2 separate regions of the Homo sapiens genome follow, and region 1 is linked to region 2. The links come from fine-mapping of genetic effects on gene expression. Tissue or cell type: whole blood. Region 2 holds a variant in brackets; the other region holds the start of a gene. All regions are shown on one strand. Distances are from middle to middle.

Region 1 (5,389 bases), 28 kb after region 2:
TGAATGAAAGCTTTCTCCTTTAAAAATGTTTAAATAAATCTCCTAGCCACAGAATTTAGAACACCCAGAGTTTGTGTGCTTAAAAACCATTCAAACACTCTAAAATTTCTCACCTTTATAGGTCCATTTTGATTTAATAAATGAAGATATTCTTCTATTCATGTAAATTCTTAGGTTACATTAATAGGATACATGTTTTTGAGTTAATCTGCTTTCTATTCTAGTGGGATTTAACATCCTAGGAATTCAGCTTTCTCTATAGGTCTTTCATCATGTCTGCAAATGAGATCTATTATGCTTAGGTCACTGAGCTGCTTTACTACTCTCCATAAATTTCAGAAGTTTATAATTTCTGTGCCACATCTTAGCTGACAACACATTTTTATCTTGTGTTAAAGCATCTTTCTCATAAAGTTCTGTCTTTGCCCAGTAGAAAACTTCTGCCACGCCTAGGATCCCAGACTGTGAGTCTGTGTTCATAAGCAAGGTAAGTGATAAAATCTTCTCATGGTCACTTTGGCTAAATTCCAGAGAGTTCAATGGCTTATCCTAAACATTATGTTGTTTTGTCAACATTCTGCAAAAAGATTGACATTTCTCTCTGTTTTAGTAGCATATAGAGGATTAGAGGGCCTTTCCAAAAAAGGTTGAAGTCAGAATTAGAAAATATTAAGGCTCACATGGTGCACTAGAAGTTACCTTGTCTGTAATCAAAAAACAACACTGCCAGATTATCTTCAGGGTTAATATATTAACTGTTTTATATAGCAGAATCGTATTCTATGTCATGCTAGAATATAATTGTAAAAAAAATTAAAAACAATTCTTTTTCTGTGAGCTCAAACATACTACTTCTCTTAATTGTATCACACATATACAAATCAGAAAAAAATTTTAATAGAGAAAACATCAAAGATAAAATGTTATGTGATATTAGGATGTAAAGTAATAAATGAGTATTAAGTAAAAATGCCAGGCCTTGTACATCAAATGGGTTACATACTTCCACGCATCCAGGATAAAACTATTGTGTTGAACCCCTTCAGAATTCTCCTCTAAAAGCTCAAAGTCAAACTAGCTTTACCTCCATTATTGCTTGTGCTCTTTAGTCATTGAAATTTTCTGTAGATACATTTAGATAATTTTACTCTTTATCAAATTACATTCACCATTAAAGAAGGATGATTTACTCCATCATTTGGGAGTATATGTTTATTCAAACATACAGGCAGTAAGAAACCTCTGAAAGGAAATACATTTAGTTTTTAATAAGAATTGATACAACAAAAGAATTTTATTTTCTTCCAGATTTTTTTGGTATTTAACAATAATTATATCAAAAATCAACCCATAACTAATATATTAAAAATAACATTTTAACCTTTGAACATAGCTTTCCAGTTTTTGTTTCTTGCTCATAAACCTGCAATAGCTTCCACCATGGCAAAAATATTGGAAATAAAATGCCTTGAAAAATTACTAATTTTAGCATAGAGTAAGTATTATATGTATCTGCAGTGTAAAATACAAAGAAGTTCAAAGCAAGAGATTATATTCACTTCGGTTTGAGTCATATCTGAGAGTGTTTTATGCAAAATAAAGGATTGTAATAGTAAATAAATAATAAATGGTAAATAAATAAAGGATTGTAATAATAAAGTATTGTATTTGAAAGAAAATGTGAAACCATGAATTATTTTAAGCAAAGGAATACCAGTGTCTGAAAGATCAGATTGCTAGCAGAAAGAAAGAATTATGGAAAATCAGAAACATTTGCTCCAGGCAGGTTGCAGAAAGCATACTGAAAAAAAAGAGTGCATATGAATGAAGTAAAGAAAAGAAATCAACAATATGATAAGCAATTATTTGCAGTAAGGGAAGGTTAGTTTTCTAGATTCAAGCTTGTCTGGTCGAGCCACCATGCAGAATAAAAAGTAAATGGATAACAACAAAGTTGTAGAAAAGATAATGAGTCTAATTTTAACCATGATTTTTGAGCATTGAATGGCAATTCCTTCAACATTATGGACAAATAATTCTTGTTTGTTAAATAAGTTAAAATTACTGTTCAATGGTTAGAAGGTTTTAGTTGTACAAGATGAATAAGTTCTAGAGACCAGCTGTACAACATTGTGCCTGTATTCACTAAAAAATGAATAGAGTTGATCTAATATTGTGTTGTTATCACAGGAATCTTTAAAAGCTTCTTATTAGTTTTACCTAAATCCTGTATTTATGTCTTTATAGGTTCTCTAAGATTCAACTATAAAAAAACTTACTAAGGTATGTCTTCATTATATGACTTCTCATATGGAGAAATTCAGCCATAATCACTAACTTCCTTTTAAGCTACTCTTTTGCAACCTCCTCAGAAGTGCATACAAAATAGAACATGAAAGAAAACTATCCCCAAATCCTCAATATAATTTATTTCTGGAAACCTTTACAAGTCCATGATATCAAAATTTTGAAAGGCTATGTAAGACGTTAATGGACATCTATATCAACTTGAAATGATGTAGCTATAAATTTCATCTCCCATAATTCTTCATTTAAAAAATCTAGTTATTATTAGTTAATAAACCTCTGCATCAAGTCAAGTAACACTGAGATAAATATGAAGAAAACAAGCACATCCATTTAATCTATATAATTTCTAAAGAGATGAAGAAAGGCTTAGAAAAATACTACAATTTTATTTCTGTGGTGGTTCCAACCTGTGATAACTGAGAACAATACAAATAGAGATTTGAAATTCATGTTGAATCATGAATCATATGTCTGCATCTCTCAAAATCTCCAATAGCTCCAAATTCCAGGTCTCTGAGTTCATCCTGCTGGGATTCCCGGGCATTCACAGCTGGCAACACTGGCTATCTCTGCCCCTGGCACTACTGTATCTCTCAGCACTTGCTGCAAACACCCTCATCCTCATCATCATCTGGCAGAACCCTTCTTTACAGCAGCCCATGTATATTTTCCTTGGCATCCTCTGTATGGTAGACATGGGTCTGGCCACTACTATCATCCCTAAGATCCTGGCCATCTTCTGGTTTGATGCCAAGGTTATTAGCCTCCCTGAGTGCTTTGCTCAGATTTATGCCATTCACTTCTTTGTGGGCATGGAGTCTGGTATCCTACTCTGCATGGCTTTTGATAGATATGTGGCTATTTGTCACCCTCTTCGCTATCCATCAATTGTCACCAGTTCCTTAATCTTAAAAGCTACCCTGTTCATGGTGCTGAGAAATGGCTTATTTGTCACTCCAGTGCCTGTGCTTGCAGCACAGCGTGATTATTGCTCCAAGAATGAAATTGAACACTGCCTGTGCTCTAACCTTGGGGTCACAAGCCTGGCTTGTGATGACAGGAGGCCAAACAGCATTTGCCAGTTGGTTCTGGCATGGCTTGGAATGGGGAGTGATCTAAGTCTTATTATACTGTCATATATTTTGATTCTGTACTCTGTACTTAGACTGAACTCAGCTGAAGCTGCAGCCAAGGCCCTGAGCACTTGTAGTTCACATCTCACCCTCATCCTTTTCTTTTACACTATTGTTGTAGTGATTTCAGTGACTCATCTGACAGAGATGAAGGCTACTTTGATTCCAGTTCTACTTAATGTGTTGCACAACATCATCCCCCCTTCCCTCAACCCTACAGTTTATGCACTTCAGACCAAAGAACTTAGGGCAGCCTTCCAAAAGGTGCTGTTTGCCCTTACAAAAGAAATAAGATCTTAGAGACCTTCTCCATGATGTACATGAACCTCAGCTTCTCCTAAACTGGATAGTAAAATTTCAAAGAGGATAAATGAGTAAGTGAATACCTTTGGGATTCCCTTTTTATATTTGTATGTAAATAATTGTGAAAGCTTCAGAAAAGATACAAAAAATCACAGTAGCCTAAAATATTGACAAAAGCTAAATATTTAAATATATTTGAGAATATGGAAGAAATTTCTGCCAAATCAAATTGGATTTAAAGAACTTAATGATTGATATCTATCTCTTAAAATAAAAATGAATATAATCACACACCCACAAATACACACACAGACACACATACATTCAATCAGACAAATGAGTGATTGGGACATGAATCACAGGTCATGCTTGCGCATTGTTAGCTGTAACTTGGGAGCTGTAACTTGGGAGCAAAGTCAGTCTGCCTAAACAAGCATTACTCCAGTAATATGAAATACAGAGGTCGGAAAAGAAAATAATTCAGATAAAGCCAAATCAGTCAATGATGAGGATTTATGTGGAATATGAGATGACTCAGCTTGGACAGACAGAACCCAAAAGATTCATCTAGCTAGAAGGATCTGGTGCTTACGCCGTTTGCCTCCCCAGATTTGCTGTCTGCCCTTTGTGCACTGCTCTGTAAACTGGAGGGCTGACTTTCACATATTGTAAGCCCAAACTCCTTTGTCTTTCGGTGTTCAGTTGAATTGAGCCAATGTGATGCGTGACAGATTATAGTTCAAGAGGAGACAGCATTTGGGCTATTTATTATTCTACTCCCAGCCTGCTTTGACATGAGGGTTTTCACTGGATATGTCCCTTCTCTGGCCACCCACCTGCTACAGCTACAGCTTTTATGGAAATATAGTAACAGGCTTGTCTTGCCTTCTTTCTTCAGGCCAAGGGGCTGATAAAGGCTTCCTGATAGTAGTCTCTGAGTGCCCAGCATCCATTATTTTTTAATATCCACTTGTTTTCTTAAACAACCTACTACTCAATACCAACTTCATTAAATTGTCTTCAAACTCACATTTCTTTGTGCCTTTTTTTTTTCCCTTTCTGAGACCCTGACTGACTCACTGGCTTTATTTATATCACCAGCATCTATCTCTACCATAGCTACTCATCCACTACTACTACCACACCCACATAAGAATGTAGGCAGCTTCAGCAAAATCTTCAGATGATCAGATATAAAGACACTGCAGGCAGGAGGTCGATATAGAAATTTTTCCCTGTGAAATTTTTACTTTGAGAGTTTTCTTTTCTTTCTTTTTTTTTTAAATAGTCCTAAACAATGAATGGGCAAAATAAGGCTTAATCTATTATTGTCTTGTATTTCAATCTTTTCCAGGCTACTTTCCATTAAACACATGCTCAGATTAATGCCATTAAATAGCTAGGACATTCCTTGAAATATGAGTATTAATTTTGGGTGCAGGAATACCAGTTGCTAGAAAGTCTGTTATACATTATATAATGTCAACTCCTCTTCCAGTTAGATTTCAAAAGTAAACCCTATCAGTTTTCAGGTAAAATGAAAATAATATAATGTATCTTTCTTATTAGTCTGGCCTTTCACACAAACTTCAATTTTTTTCATTTAAAAATTAATGAAGAGAAAAGACTCCATGCCCTTTGTA
Region 2 (5,327 bases):
TCTCCACACTTTGTCCCCAGTCTGTGACCATCTATTTATTCCCACCATATCCAGGGATAGTAAGAGTGTGGGGAGGAAGGTGGATAAAACTTTGTAAGATAGGAGGGCCTATTACTTTTTTGAGCATTGCTAGACAAAATACAGGATGCTCAGTTAAAGTTTAATTTCAGATAAAAGAAATGTAATATTTTTAGTATAAGAATATCTTAAATATTATAAGGGTCATATATATAACAAAAAATATATTGTTTATCCCAAATTCTAATTGAACTAGCCACTTTTATGTTCTAAATCTGGCAACCCTATCTTGACTCATGTTTTCTATCTTTTCCCCAGGATGTGATTGACGTCATGAAAAGGTATATGTGGAAGAGAGATGTGGTCTTATTTGTCTGAAAAGAGAATTATAGTCCTGAGAGATATCTTCCTTCAATCAGAACAACTTAAAAAATCAAAAGGCTGGGAAATTTGTGTATTAAATTGTCCCAAATTGCTAGTCACAGATTAAAGTTTTCAATTGTAAGAAATTTTGGTGTTGGGAGATCACAGAGTTAGGGTCGACGGAGGCCTTAGGAATAAGAGTTTGCAATATCAGAACCCCATGACTTCACTCACTTTATTCAAACCTCTGTCTCTGTTGTTTCCATATTGCATAGATGCCTGTCTTATTGCAGTGAGGCTCTGCCCTTTTTATATGCCAGACTCCAAATTTTTCAGAGACAGCGCCTTTATGTTTGTTTTCCTCCCTGAGAATAAAATAAACAATAACTTTCTAGGTGGTGCTTTTTAGATTTCTAGAAAAATAGATTCAAGTCTTGAGGAATAGTGGCTTTGGTCCTGGTGCTAGCATAACCTTTTCTTGCTCACATACTTTACCGTCTTGTAGGAAAAAATAATATTCTTGTGTCTAAAGTTGCCCACCTACTTGGCAACATCAAAGTTTTTTTAAACACATGAAAATCAGACCACTATTAATTAATTTAGTCATCGTAATTTGTCTTTCCCCAAATAACTTGAAACCTCAGACATTATTCTCTAGGTCTCATATTGGGATAACAGATTTTGGAAACCCTTTAGCTCTTCAATATAGGATCCTACTTTGATATCTCTCAACAACTCAGGAGACAGATTCTATGGCCTCCTTAATGACCACCTGTCTAGGAACCCACATCTCTGGCCTCTTCCTGGTGGACCCACTGAGATGGCAATGACTTTTCTAAATATTAAATAAGTTTTTTAGAGGCACTGAATATCTTTTAAAAGCATTATTGGCTGGGTGCAGTGGGTCACGCCTACAATGCTAGCACTTTGGGAAGCCGAGGCAGGCGGATCACTTGAGGTCAGAAGTTCAAAACCAGCCTGGCCAACATGGTGAAACCCTGTCTCTACTAAAAGTACAAAAAAATTAGCTGGATGTGGTAGCAGGCACCTGTAATCCCAGCTACTTGGGAGGCTGAGGCAGGAGAATGGCTTGAACCTGGGAGGCAGAGGTTGCAGTGAGCCGAGGTCGCGCCACTACACTCCAGCCTGGATAACAGAGTGAGACCCCATCTCAAAACAAACAAACAAACAAACAAACAAAAGCATTATTATTTTATCTAATTTTATATTCATTTTTAAGAGGTAGAAAGCATGGGGTTAATTATTGCATTTTAAAAGTAAGAAAGCGAACATCGTTGAAGTGAAGACCTTCCCAAGATTACACAGAGGGGAAGACCTTCCCAAGATTACACACAGACAGGTAGACATGAGCACATTTCTCTGGACTCCAGTGTCAGGCATCTCCCCTCTACTGTCCTCAGGGAAGAGGGTCCAAGTGCGTCAGCAAGTATGGTGAAAGGTGAAAGAGACAGTGATCTTGGATGGAGAGAAATAGGGCAAAGGTGTAAAGGTTATCAATTTTTGTTATCACTAGGAGTGAAAGCTGGACATTGAAGAAGCCAAAATCTGTTTCCAAGAAACTAAAGAGTGTATTCCGAGTACCAGATCTGAGTGGGATGCTGCAAGTTCTTAAAGGTAAGGGGATTCAGGGGAAGGCTGTGAATGTGGATTTCTTAGTATCAGGGCTCAATAGGGAAGCGGGAGGTTTTTTTAGGTTAGGATATAGGAGAGGAGGTGGGCCAGAGAAGGAGGAAAATCCTGTGCTGTAGATGTGGTCCTGTCTTAGGGGGAATGACCAGGTGTCTGATTCATCCTCTCATTCACCAGTGCAAAGAATCCCAGTATTCCCCCTTTCCTTTCCCTACTCTGGAGAAGAGACAGGTGTCAGTACTTACTTATTTGCTTCTAACAACATCACTGAAACTTTTGTCGTTTCAGAGCTGACAGATGTCCAGTACTACTGGGGTAAGATGATATGGGGTTTTCAAATCACTTCCTTTCAGAATTGTGGTTACTATTAGATCTCATAATCTGAGTCTCATGTGTTCCTCCCCAAACATGCTTAAACCATGTAGTTCTTTTTTTTTTTTTTTTTAAGATAGATTTTTGCTATTGTTGCCCAGGCTGGAGTGCAATGGCGCGGTCTCGGCTCACTGCAACCTCTGCCTCCTGGGTTCAAGCGATTCTGCTGCCTCAGCCTCCCAAGTAGCTGGGATTACAGGCGTGTGCCACCACGCTTGGCTAATTTTTATAGTCTTACACCCTGTATTTCTTAAGGGTCCTACTAACCTCTGACTATCAACACAAGTTCCGTTTGATATCGACACAAGTTTCATTTTCAATATGTCTCTTCTCAATGCTGTAAGACACACCTATCCCATATCCTTCACTTGACTTGGTAATTTTTTCTACAGTGGACGTGATGCTGAATCCAGGCAGTGCCACTTCGAATGTTGCTATTTCTGTGGATCAGA[G/A]ACAAGTGAAAACTGTACGCACCTGCACATTTAAGAATTCAAATCCATGTGATTTTTCTGCTTTTGGTGTCTTCGGCTGCCAATATTTCTCTTCGGGGAAATATTACTGGGAAGTAGATGTGTCTGGAAAGATTGCCTGGATCCTGGGCGTACACAGTAAAATAAGTAGTCTGAATAAAAGGAAGAGCTCTGGGTTTGCTTTTGATCCAAGTGTAAATTATTCAAAAGTTTACTCCAGATATAGACCTCAATATGGCTACTGGGTTATAGGATTACAGAATACATGTGAATATAATGCTTTTGAGGACTCCTCCTCTTCTGATCCCAAGGTTTTGACTCTCTTTATGGCTGTGCCTCCCTGTCGTATTGGGGTTTTCCTAGACTATGAGGCAGGCATTGTCTCATTTTTCAATGTCACAAACCACGGAGCACTCATCTACAAGTTCTCTGGATGTCGCTTTTCTCGACCTGCTTATCCGTATTTCAATCCTTGGAACTGCCTAGTCCCCATGACTGTGTGCCCACCGAGCTCCTGAGTGTTCTCATTCCTTTACCCACTTCTGCATAGTAGCCCTTGTGCTGAGACTCAGATTCTGCACCTGAGTTCATCTCTACTGAGACCATCTCTTCCTTTCTTTCCCCTTCTTTTACTTAGAATGTCTTTGTATTCATTTGCTAGGGCTTCCATAGCAAAGCATCATAGATTGCTGATTTAAACTGTAATTGTATTGCCGTACTGTGGGCTGGAAATCCCAAATCTAGATTCCAGCAGAGTTGGTTCTTTCTGAGGTCTGCAAGGAAGGGCTCTGTTCCATGCCTCTCTCCTTGGCTTGTAGAAGGCATCTTGTCCCTATGACTCTTCACATTGTCTTTATGTACATCTCTGTGCCCAAGTTTTCCCTTTTTATTAAGACACCAGTCATACTGGCTCAGGGCCCACCGCTAATGCCTTAATGAAATCATTTTAACATTATATTCTCTACAAAGACCTTATTTCCAAATAAGATAATATTTGGAGGTATTGGGAATAAAAACTCCAACATATAAATTTGAGGAAGGCACGATTTCACTCATAACAATCTTACCCTTTCTTGCAAGAGATGCTTGTACATTATTTTCCTAATACCTTGGTTTCACTAGTAGTAAACATTATTATTTTTTTTATATTTGCAAAGGAAACATATCTAATCCTTCCTATAGAAAGAACAGTATTGCTGTAATTCCTTTTCTTTTCTTCCTCATTTCCTCTGCCCCTTAAAAGATTGAAGAAAGAGAAACTTGTCAACTCATATCCACGTTATCTAGCAAAGTACATAAGAATCTATCACTAAGTAATGTATCCTTCAGAATGTGTTGGTTTACCAGTGACACCCCATATTCATCACAAAATTAAAGCAAGAAGTCCATAGTAATTTATTTGCTAATAGTGGATTTTTAATGCTCAGAGTTTCTGAGGTCAAATTTTATCTTTTCACTTACAAGCTCTATGATCTTAAATAATTTACTTAATGTATTTTGGTGTATTTTCCTCAAATTAATATTGGTGTTCAAGACTATATCTAATTCCTCTGATCACTTTGAGAAACAAACTTTTATTAAATGTAAGGCACTTTTCTATGAATTTTAAATATAAAAATAAATATTGTTCTGATTATTACTGAAAAGATGTCAGCCATTTCAATGTCTTGGGAAACAATTTTTTGTTTTTGTTCTGTTTTCTTTTTGCTTCAATAAAACAATAGCTGGCTCTACTGAAGTCTCATTCTTCAGTTTCCAAAATCTTGCTGCAGATAATATGAGTTTCCATATGTCCAGTAAAGAAGGTCATGTCTAGGCTCAGCTGTCCTTGATAAGAGACAGCCTTATGCTGTTCAGATCTGTTTCTCGTAATGAAACACTTGTGTGTACCATTGCATTTACCATCCTAGGTACTTTTCTTTTTTTTTTTTTTTAAGTCTTTTTTCAAACACAGGATGAGTAGTAGAACTACCTAGGATAGCAAAGACACAAAACATTCTTGAAGAAATATATTGTATTAGTCGGGGTTCTCCAGAGAAACAGAACAATAAGAGATATGTATTTATTATGAGGAATTGGCTTACTTGATTATGGAGGCTAAGACTTCCCATTATCTGCCATTTGGAAACCAGAGACCCAAAAGCTGGTGATATAAGTCAGTGTGTCTCTGAAGCCCTAAGAACCAGGGAGCTGATGGTATAAATGCCAGTACAAAGGCAGAAAAAGATGAGGTGACATGTCTCAGCTCAAGTACTGCGGCAGGAAAAGAAGCAAATATCTTCTTCCTCAACCCTTTCTCCTACTCAGATCCTTTATGGATTAGATGATGTCCAGCAACTTGGGGGAGGGCAAGCTTTGGAGAGGTAGCCATTACTGAGTCCAGCTATTCAGGTGCTAATCTTTTTCAGAAACACCCTTACAAATACAACCAGAAACACCCTTACAAATACAACC

What was found. PIP is the estimated chance that this variant, and not a neighbour inherited with it, causes the effect. A credible set is the group of variants that fine-mapping cannot tell apart.
Region 1: OR56B1 starts here. The variant in region 2 is the best candidate, but not a certain one, in a credible set for the expression of OR56B1 in whole blood (TOPMed, PIP 0.70).

What each region holds. Positions count from the first base shown.
Region 1 is chr11:5,733,749-5,739,137 of GRCh38, forward strand. OR56B1 (olfactory receptor family 56 subfamily B member 1) reads left to right here and starts at 2,700. Exons shown (of 1, transcript NM_001005180.3): 1 at 2,700-4,775. The coding sequence starts at 2,769. The coding sequence ends at 3,743. It also overlaps a transcript of OR52N4 not described here. RefSeq lists a silencer at 417-617.
Region 2 is chr11:5,706,258-5,711,584 of GRCh38, forward strand. It overlaps TRIM22 (tripartite motif containing 22), which reads left to right. Exons shown (of 8, transcript NM_006074.5): 5 at 337-359; 6 at 1,916-2,016; 7 at 2,320-2,346; 8 at 2,796-4,606. The coding sequence ends at 3,391. Among named protein-coding and RNA genes, the nearest start is that of TRIM22, 19 kb to the left of the region's middle. The variant G/A (reference allele first, on the strand shown) is at 2,856.